2 separate regions of the Homo sapiens genome follow, and region 2 is linked to region 1. Evidence: fine-mapped expression QTL. A gene starts in region 1. The other region holds a variant in brackets. All regions are shown on one strand. Distances are from middle to middle. Region 1 holds the start of SRRM2 (serine/arginine repetitive matrix 2). Region 2 overlaps ELOB (elongin B).

Evidence for each region. PIP is the estimated chance that this variant, and not a neighbour inherited with it, causes the effect.
Region 2: its variant is the best candidate, but not a certain one, in a credible set for the expression of SRRM2 in whole blood (TOPMed, PIP 0.54).

What each region holds. Positions count from the first base shown.
Region 1 is chr16:2,750,809-2,755,323 of GRCh38, reverse strand. It overlaps SRRM2 (serine/arginine repetitive matrix 2), which reads right to left and starts at 2,686. Exons shown (of 15, transcript NM_016333.4): 1 at 2,478-2,686. SRRM2-AS1 (SRRM2 antisense RNA 1) reads left to right here and starts at 2,724. Exons shown (of 6, transcript NR_027275.1): 1 at 2,724-2,882. RefSeq lists enhancers at 1,278-2,120, 2,121-2,963, 2,845-3,134, 3,195-3,364, 2,964-3,806 and silencers at 2,275-2,334, 2,355-2,664.
Region 2 is chr16:2,772,634-2,776,633 of GRCh38, reverse strand. ELOB (elongin B) reads left to right here. Exons shown (of 4, transcript NM_007108.4): 3 at 1,078-1,183. Among named protein-coding and RNA genes, the nearest start is that of ELOB, 2.6 kb to the left of the region's middle. RefSeq lists a silencer at 3,413-3,565. The variant G/C (reference allele first, on the strand shown) is at 1,705.

The sequences.
Region 1 (4,515 bases):
CTCTCAGCCCTGCCTCTTCCTTCTCTCCTGTGTTAACCCCATGCCTCCTCCCAGGTTCTAGCCTTTCAACTTGTCCCAACCCTAACGTGATTCTGAAAAATTCTCAAGTCCCAGCTTTCCTGGTTAGATTCCTTGGCTACACATACTCTATTCCTTTCTCCTATTACATATACTCTCTTTCTCACCCTCATCCTCTCCAAGATAGTTTCCTAGAACATGCATATATGAGAAAATACTACTAAGAAAAAACCCTAAGGAATACGTAAAGCGGAGAGAGTAATCAAAGATGTAAAAGAACTGGATAGAAGGGAAGGATGCATTTAGAAAATTCCAGAATGAAGAAGCATCATACAAATGTTTGGAAAAATATACTAGCGCATGCGCCTAAGGATGGGTCCCTACCCAAGCCCAGTAGCAGACCCAATATTGAAAGCAGAAGGTGACAGAAGAGGCTAAACCTGGATAAGGCAAGCAGAAATCCAGGAAAAAATGAAAAACTGTATGGCTCAAAAAATCAATTTCTCTACACCCCAATCCTCATTTTCATCTTCTAGTACCAATCCTCCTCACGGTTTAAAACTAGGTCCTTCTTCGCCTCTCCCCTACCCCACTTAATTTCTGCTTCCCCTGCAGCATGTTTTTGACCTGCACTTAATTCTTCAGCTTAACCATTCACCCACACTTCCATACCACCTCACACAAAAATCCCCCCACTCCTTAAGAAAGGAAAACCAGGCCGGGTACGGTGGCTCACGCCTGTAACACCTGCACTTTGGGAGGCCGAGGTGGGCGGATCACCAGATCAGGAGATTGACACCAGCCTGGCCAACACGGTGAAACTCCATCTCTACCAAAAATACAAAAATTAGCTGGGCGGCGGCGATTGCCTGTAATCTCAGCAACTCCAGAGGCTGAAGCAGGAGAATCGCTTGAACCCGGGAGGCGGAAGGTTGCAGTGAGCCGAGATCGCGCCACTGCACTCCGGCCTGCCAACAGAGCTAGACTCCGTCTCGGAAAAAAAAAAAAAAGAAAAACCAGTAGGTGCTAAGCAAAGGATATTAGGTCACAATGTTTCGGAGAACTTTTAGGGAATGAGCCACCTAGTCCACCCCACAAAAAAAGACGACGACCCCACGGCATCTAAGGGGTGTGTTAAGACACAGAAAGTAGGAAGATCAACACCACACACAAATCACCAAACCAAACGATATTACAAAACTCTTAAAGTGGGGGCCATAGACAGTGGATATGCAAAAGTTACCCAAGTTAAAAGCAGAAAGTAAAAAGTACAAAGGAAGACAAAAACACCCTTTTCTGTTGGGAAATTATCCGAGTGGTAAGCTAACAATGAAGTAGAAAGATATATTTGAATTCAACAGTAAAATATGCAAAAAAGAAAACGGTACCAAAAGGGGAGAAAAAGGGGAGACAAGGGTTGTCGAAAAAAATGGACATCAGCAAGCACAGCCAGCTCAGCACCGGGGCGCTCCAGAGCGGCTGAGTGGACACAAAGAACCCAGAAAGCTAAAATAGTAGCTTTAGAAGAGCCCTAAGCCCACGCACTTAGGATGAAAGACAACACAACACTCTGAAATTCTGATCCAGATTCGTCCTAACTGAAGCCGAGTGGAAACCAAGCTTCAGAAGAGCTGTGTGCCAAAGAACGCCTGAAACCAACCAGAAAACTTATATATGAGTCTGGCGTTTTCTTCCCAACGAAGGTCTCCAAAAGCCTCCTTAGTTTGAACACGAATTCTCGGGAGACGTTGAAAAAGTGTAAAAAGGGAACGCACGGTCTACCTTACAAATGTAAACTGAACACGTTCACTTTCTTCACAGTTTTTAAGATTTGGGGTTTCTCCCCGCCACTAACAACTCAAAGGCTGATAGCCGGGAATCCTAAACCATTTAAATCCGGCCCACGAAGTTCAAGGCCCTCCCCGCAGCGCCGGGGGCCTATTTTCGGCCTTGCGGAATGGGGGAGGGGGCTGCGCGGCGTCCCGCAGTCTGGGAGGCCCCCGACACGGGCAGCCCAACGCCGAAGAGAAGCCCGAGGAAAGGAGATCTGGAACCGGGGGCAAGGGTCCAGGAGCAAGCCCCCCGCCGCCGCCCCTTCCCCGCCACTTAAGGGCCGAAAACGGCAGCTGCAGGAAGGCCACCTCGGCGGCACATGTTGGGGGGAGGAGTGAAGCCGAGGCGCGCGCCCTCCCCCCTCACCAAGGGCGCTCGCGAACCCGAGTACAGGCGGCTGCGAACGCCGTTGTCATGGGGGAGGGGCGGGGGGGGGTGAAGCCCGCGCGCGACAGGAACGGCGGGAAGGGGGAAGGGAGGCGAGGGCGTCCGCGCCAGCGAAGGGCGTCGAGCGCGCGTGCGCGCGGAGGAGCTCGGCGGCCTGGGCAGTTCTCCGCGCGCTTTGGCCTCGCGCCGGGGCCGCCGCCCCTCCCCCACCCGGCTCGCTGGCTCCCTCACCCTCTCACCCGCCGCCTCCGCCCGCCGCCTCCGAGGGGGAGAGGTCTTGCCGCCGCCGCTGCTCGAGCTCCCGAGTCCCTCGGGCCTGGGGCCGCCGCCTCGCCTCGCCGGTCCGCCCGCCTCAGCCGACGCCGACGCCTCCTCGCTTCCTCAGGGGCCGCAACGGGCTCCAACTGCGCCACTCGCACCCCGCCTGGGCCGCGCTGCACGTCAGCACGACTAACTGCGTGCGTCAGCACGCAAACGCGCGTCGCGGGGCCTGCCGGGAACTGGAGTGCGCCCCGCGGCCTTTTGCGCAGGCGCCGAAGCCACACCGCGAAGTACCGTTTTTTCAGGCACAAGGAAGGTTTCACCCCGTTGCCGAAAGACTAAGCGTCCCGTTGGCCAGTGCAACGAAGAACGGAGGAAGCGACGTAAGACACCGCGTATTCGTAGGCCTTCCGCTGCGGGGAGGAGCACAGGGCCTAGCGGCAGCAAAGCGACGCCCGAGCGCGTCTCGTCTCCCGCTGTCGATGCAGAGCATTCTGGGAGTTGTGGTTCGGGCGTGTCGCGGAGCCCGGATGTAATTTCGGCTCGGGGCGTGGCGGCCATTTTGTCTCCCCATGTTGGGAGACGATATCCCAGCCGCGGTGGTGCTGCCGCTTTCGTGTGACTTTGGGTTTCCCGAGCGAGCCCGCAGCTGCACAGCAGTCCGCCTTCCCGTACCCGAGAGAAGCCGCCTCAGACCCCAGCCAGCGGGCACCCCCGGAGGCCCCGAGCCTGGCTGCAGGCCCTAGACCTGCACCAGGGGCCCAACCAGTTACCCGTAGCATGGGCCACGTTCTCCCGCTGTAGACCGGGCTGAGGCCCGACGGCCACCCCTGGGGGAGGAGTTTTCTTAGCTTCCGGTAGGGCAGCCAGGCCGGGGTCCCACCAGACCCAGGACGTGATACCGGTGAAGCGGCACATACAGGAACAAGGCAGGAGGAAAATAATAAGCACCTTAAAGTTTCCACTTTTCGGTACCGTACTTCCTGTTAATGTTTCTAAGCCCGTGATTCTGGGCCTGATAATCAGCCAGCCGTCCTCACAGCAGAGTTGTAAGACGCTGGGCTGCTCAAGCACAAGTTCATATCTAGACCCACCGCTGGCGAGCAGCCCTGGACGTCCCGCTTAGCTGTCCTAACCAACTCAGGTGGCCTTGATCCGCAACAGGACGCGGTACCACGTAATGAACTGTCCATTTGAGTGCAAGGATTTATATTTGTTATTACGATTTGGGGGTGTTTTTAAGAGGCAGGGTTTTGCCCAGGCTGTTCTCGAATTTGGGGCTCAAGCGATCCTCCGACCTCAGCCTCCCAAGTAGCTGGGACTACCCGTGCATGACACCCTATCTGGCCCTTGTTTTTTGTTGTTGTTGTTGTTCTTTCTTTTTTCACGTGGTTTCGCACTTGTCACCCAGGCTGGAGTGCAATGGTGTGTTGTCGGCTCACTGCAACCTGTCTCTCAGGTTGAAGTGATTCTCGTGTCTCAGTCTTCCGAGTAGCTGGGATTACAGGCGTGTGCCACCACGCCTGGCTAATTTTTGTATTTTTAGTAAAGACGGGGCTTCACTATATTGGTCAGGCTGGTCTCGATTTCCTGACCTCAGGTGATCTGCCCACCTCAGCCTCCCAAAGTGCTGATATTACAGGCGTGAGCCACCACGCCCGGCCCGTATCCGGCTTTAAGATTTGTTTTTCACTTGCCCGTGGGAGGATGTACTTATCTCAGATGCTAGAGCCGGGAGACCCTCCCCCCCACCACCCCCATCTCCTGCAGGAGCTCTGATCGCAGATTGGAGTGTCTGAACTCTGCATCTATGGACGGTGCTTCTGTAAGCCGGCCGCAACTCTGGAGTGGCATAGTAAAGTGGCAAAGGCTTTGCCTTTCTGGTTAAAGACCCCAGCACCTCCAGTGAGACCCTTTCCTGTACCCCCACTGATATTCTTTATGGAATGTTTTGTGCGTGAGTCAGCACATTTAATGCCCGTGAATAGTGACAAAACATGGTTTGCAGTACCCTAA
Region 2 (4,000 bases), 22 kb before region 1:
CACCCTTCTTCGCAGGCCCATCGGAATCACGCTGTCCCCCCGGACACTCCTTCGGGTGGAGGGTGGGGAACTCAGTGAATGCAAAGAAAGTCAGGTCCCACTCGTTCTTCACCAAGCAACCGTTTGTTATTACCTCCCGACCTCCTGCTGATGTCCTAGAAGCCCCCCTTTCCCCTTGCAAACGAACTGAGATTATTCAGTCAGAATGGCTTGGGGTTTGGGGTCTGCATTGGGGAGTCAGATGCATCAGCCTCTGATTTACGTCTCCCAACATTGTGAGGTTGTCGCCCAAGTGCATTGTTCAGATTCTAGAGCTGGAAACTGGGAAACTGACTTTTAGCTCCAGGCTCAGAGCCTCAGCTCCCATGGTCTCTAAAGGCCTTTCCTCACTCATAACTACTGGGACTTAGCAAATATTAAATGACCGTGCCTGTGCATGTCCCGTGTGCCACATGTCTACTTAGTGCTTTATGTTTCTTCCTAGCTCATTGAAACCCTCTGGTGGCCCTACGAATTGAGAATTCTGGTAATTCCTAGTTTACAGATGAGGAAACTTTGCATCAAAAGGCTCAACTACCAGCCAGCCGTGGTGGCATGGTCCTGTAGTCCCAGCTACTCTGAAGGCTGAGGCAGGAGAATTGCTTGAGCCCAGGAGTTCCAAGCTGGAGGGGGCTATGATAGCGCTTATGTTGGGTCTGTGCCACTGCATGCCTGGGCAACATAGCGAGACCCTGTCTCTAAAATAAAAAAATGTTCAAATGCCTAGTCCAGGGTGACAGAGCTGGGATTGAAAGCCAGGTCTGCCTATCTCCAGATAGCTCAGTGGCTCCTCAAATTAGATTTGCCTGGAGAATTTGGATAAAACCGGATTCTAAAGTCCCACCCTGGGAGGTTTTGATTTAGAAGTTCTTGGATATAACCCTGGAATCTGTGTATTTGTCAAGCAGCGTGGTGGTCCTGGGCCACACTGAGGGAACTCTCTCTTCCCTCCTCTGACTTCCCGTGTAGTTGCTGGTCAGAAGTCTTTGGGACTTGCCCCATGTAGGGCCTCTCCCAAGATCCTGCTTCTCTCCTCAGGATGACCAACTCTTGGATGATGGCAAGACACTGGGCGAGTGTGGCTTCACCAGTCAAACAGCACGGCCACAGGCCCCAGCCACAGTGGGGCTGGCCTTCCGGGCAGGTGAGAGGCCCACCACCCACTGGGCTGGGTGGTAGCCAAGCAGGTTGGGAACACTGTTCCAAAGAAGGTCATCAGGGAGCCTGGAGTTGAAGCCTTCAGGGCAGTGTCTTCCTCGTGCCTAAAGGGCTGGCAATATCCTTTCACAATGTGTTTGTTTCCTCATTTTTTTTTTTTTAAAAAAGAAGCAACCAAATGAGATGCTTACAGAAACCAAAGCTTATTTTGTGAAGCCAGCTCACATTTACAGGAGGCTGAGTGAGTGCCTGGCTCCGTGCTCTGCATGTTACTCTGTGTGTGGCTTCCACTGCCCTGTCTCATCCTCTCAGTAGCCCTGGGAAGTCCACATACCATCATCCGTGTTCTGCAGATGAGGACACAGGCTTACCAGCAGTCACGTAGGGAGCCACGGTTAGGATGCTGACTGCCGGGCCCTTGCTGGAGTCAGACATCATACCAGGCTCTATGCTATGTATCACCGAAACCCTCTGCATCTCTGTGTGGCTGAGATTTGGATTTTGCCA[G/C]TTTTCAGGTTCAGTAAAGTGAGCCTGGGGAGGTTAGGTCATCTGCTGGGACTGCCACATCTAGGATTCAGATCCAGAGCCTGGGCTTCCATCAGCCATACCCCACCCCTGCCCAAGCTTTAGAAACCTGGGGATTAGGGAGTGGTTTACTACTCGCCAAGATATCTTCTTCCACCCAAGAGAAAGGGAGGGGAGATTTAAAATATTTTGTCTCTAGGAACTTGAAGAGAGGTTATAGAGCTGTGTTTTCACAGCTGTGGACCCAGCAGCTGTGTGGATGGCTGAGAAAACTTGGATAAAGTTGTAAGGAATTCTTATTTTTCTGCCTGTAAGGGAACATAGCAAAGGCTGAAGAGGAAGAGTAGAGTCCTAGCTCCACCTTTCCGTTCCATAAGTTCAGGCTAGGCCTCAGTCTCAGCAGCTATATCCTCTGGCCAGCTACCTTGCCCTCCTGCCCCTCCTGGCCCCAGTGTTCCCTTCTCCTTAAAGGGGTGTGATGAGACTGGCTTCACAGCAAGGTGGTGTTGAGTCCTCATGCACCCCAGGTCTGGCCTGCTGCCAGTGCCCAACAGATGGGAAGCTTCAGAGCCTTTCTGTGGGCTCTTTCTGCCCAGATGGTGATGTTAAGAGTCAGGTGCAGGGCTGGCATAGACACAGGTCGTGCCTTGTACATGGGTGCATTTTTGTTGTTGTTGTTTCTGAGACAGAGTCGCACTCCGTTGTCTAGGCTGGAGTGCAGTGGCGCCATCTCAGCCCACTGCAGCCGCTGCCTCCCGGGTTCAAGCGATTCTCTTGCCTCAGTGGCCTGAGGAGCTGGGATTACAGGCATGTGCCACCACGCCCAGCTAATCTTTGTGTTTTTAGTAGAGATGGGGTTTCACCATGTTAGTCAGGCTGGTCTCAATCTCCTGACCTCAGGCGATCCATACATCCCAGCCTCCCAAAGTGCTGGGATTACAGGCCTGAGCCTCGGTGCCTGGCCCAGGGGTGCCTGTCTGAAGAGAGCAAGGGAGTGCCAAGAGCATATCTGGTCTGCTTCGTGAACCGAAGCTGGGCTGTGTTCCCCCAGAAGTGTCCCTTTCTCTAATTTCAACAGTGGTACCCCTAGAGGTTTGCTGTGACTTGGAAGATACTGATAGACCCATTTTGCAGATGAGAAAATCAAGGCTAAGGAAGGTGACTTGTTTTTCTCCCACAACCCCTAATATGGCATGGAATGTGGTGGTGACTCCGGAGCCCAGGTCACATCATCCCTCTTGCAGGTGATGGCTGTCTTGATAGGGGGCACAGCATGGGCTGTCAGCTCTTTGCTTCCCCATGGAATGCTTGCAGAAACACACTTCTGGGTGCAGCTCAACCCATCATCATGTTGTTCCCAGGCCTTGAATGGGTGCCCCACCCTCCGCCTCTCCCCTCCCCCAAGCTTACCACTCAAGGAGATGAGTATTTCAAATCAAATGTTAAAGGGCATTGTCCCGGCTCATCACAAAAGAATGAGGGAGGTAGTGAAGGCACGAATTGTCACAGGTTTGTGGCTTGGAAGATGGATTAGTTTCTGAACCTCGGCACAGTGGGCACATTGGGCTGGATTGCTGTGTGGGTTGCCTTGTGCACCATAGCACGTGGAGCCGTATCCCAGGCCTCTACCCACTAGATAGCGCTGGGGCACCCCACCTCCCCATTTGTGACCGCCACAACTGTGATCAGGCATTCCAGCTTTCCCTGGGATGCCTGATCAGTTGAGAACCCTGAGCCAAGCAGAGATGGGTCTCCTAGCTGGAAGAAAGCACAGGAGAAAAGCTGTGGGTTTGTTTGCTGTGTGTTGGGGTGACAGTAGGGACAAGACAGGGAAGGCCTTTGCCTTCCTGGAGCCAGTCAAAAGGGCAGTTTGTCCAGTGGTAAGTGCCCCTACGCCCAGAGTGTCAGGATGTCTTGACTTTTGGGGGTGCGTGGACTGGAGGTTCATCTGAGGAGGTGACCTGAGTTGGACCCTGAAAGTCCAGAAGCAGCCAGCCATTCCGAGTGCTGGGACCAGCAAGTGCGAAGGTCTGAGTTAGGAAAGAACTTACAGAAGAACATAGAGAGCCAGAGCCTCAGAGCGTGGGAAGCAGAGGGAGAGACAGACGGCAAGGACTTGGTGGTATTCAGGTCATGATGGGAAGCCACTGGATGGTTTTCAGCAGGGGAGGAATAGTCTAGATAGTCTAGTTTGATTTTTTTTTTTTGAGATGGAGTCTGTGTCGCCCAGGTTGGAGTGCAGTGGCGCGATCTCAGCTACTGCAAGCTCCGCCTCCCG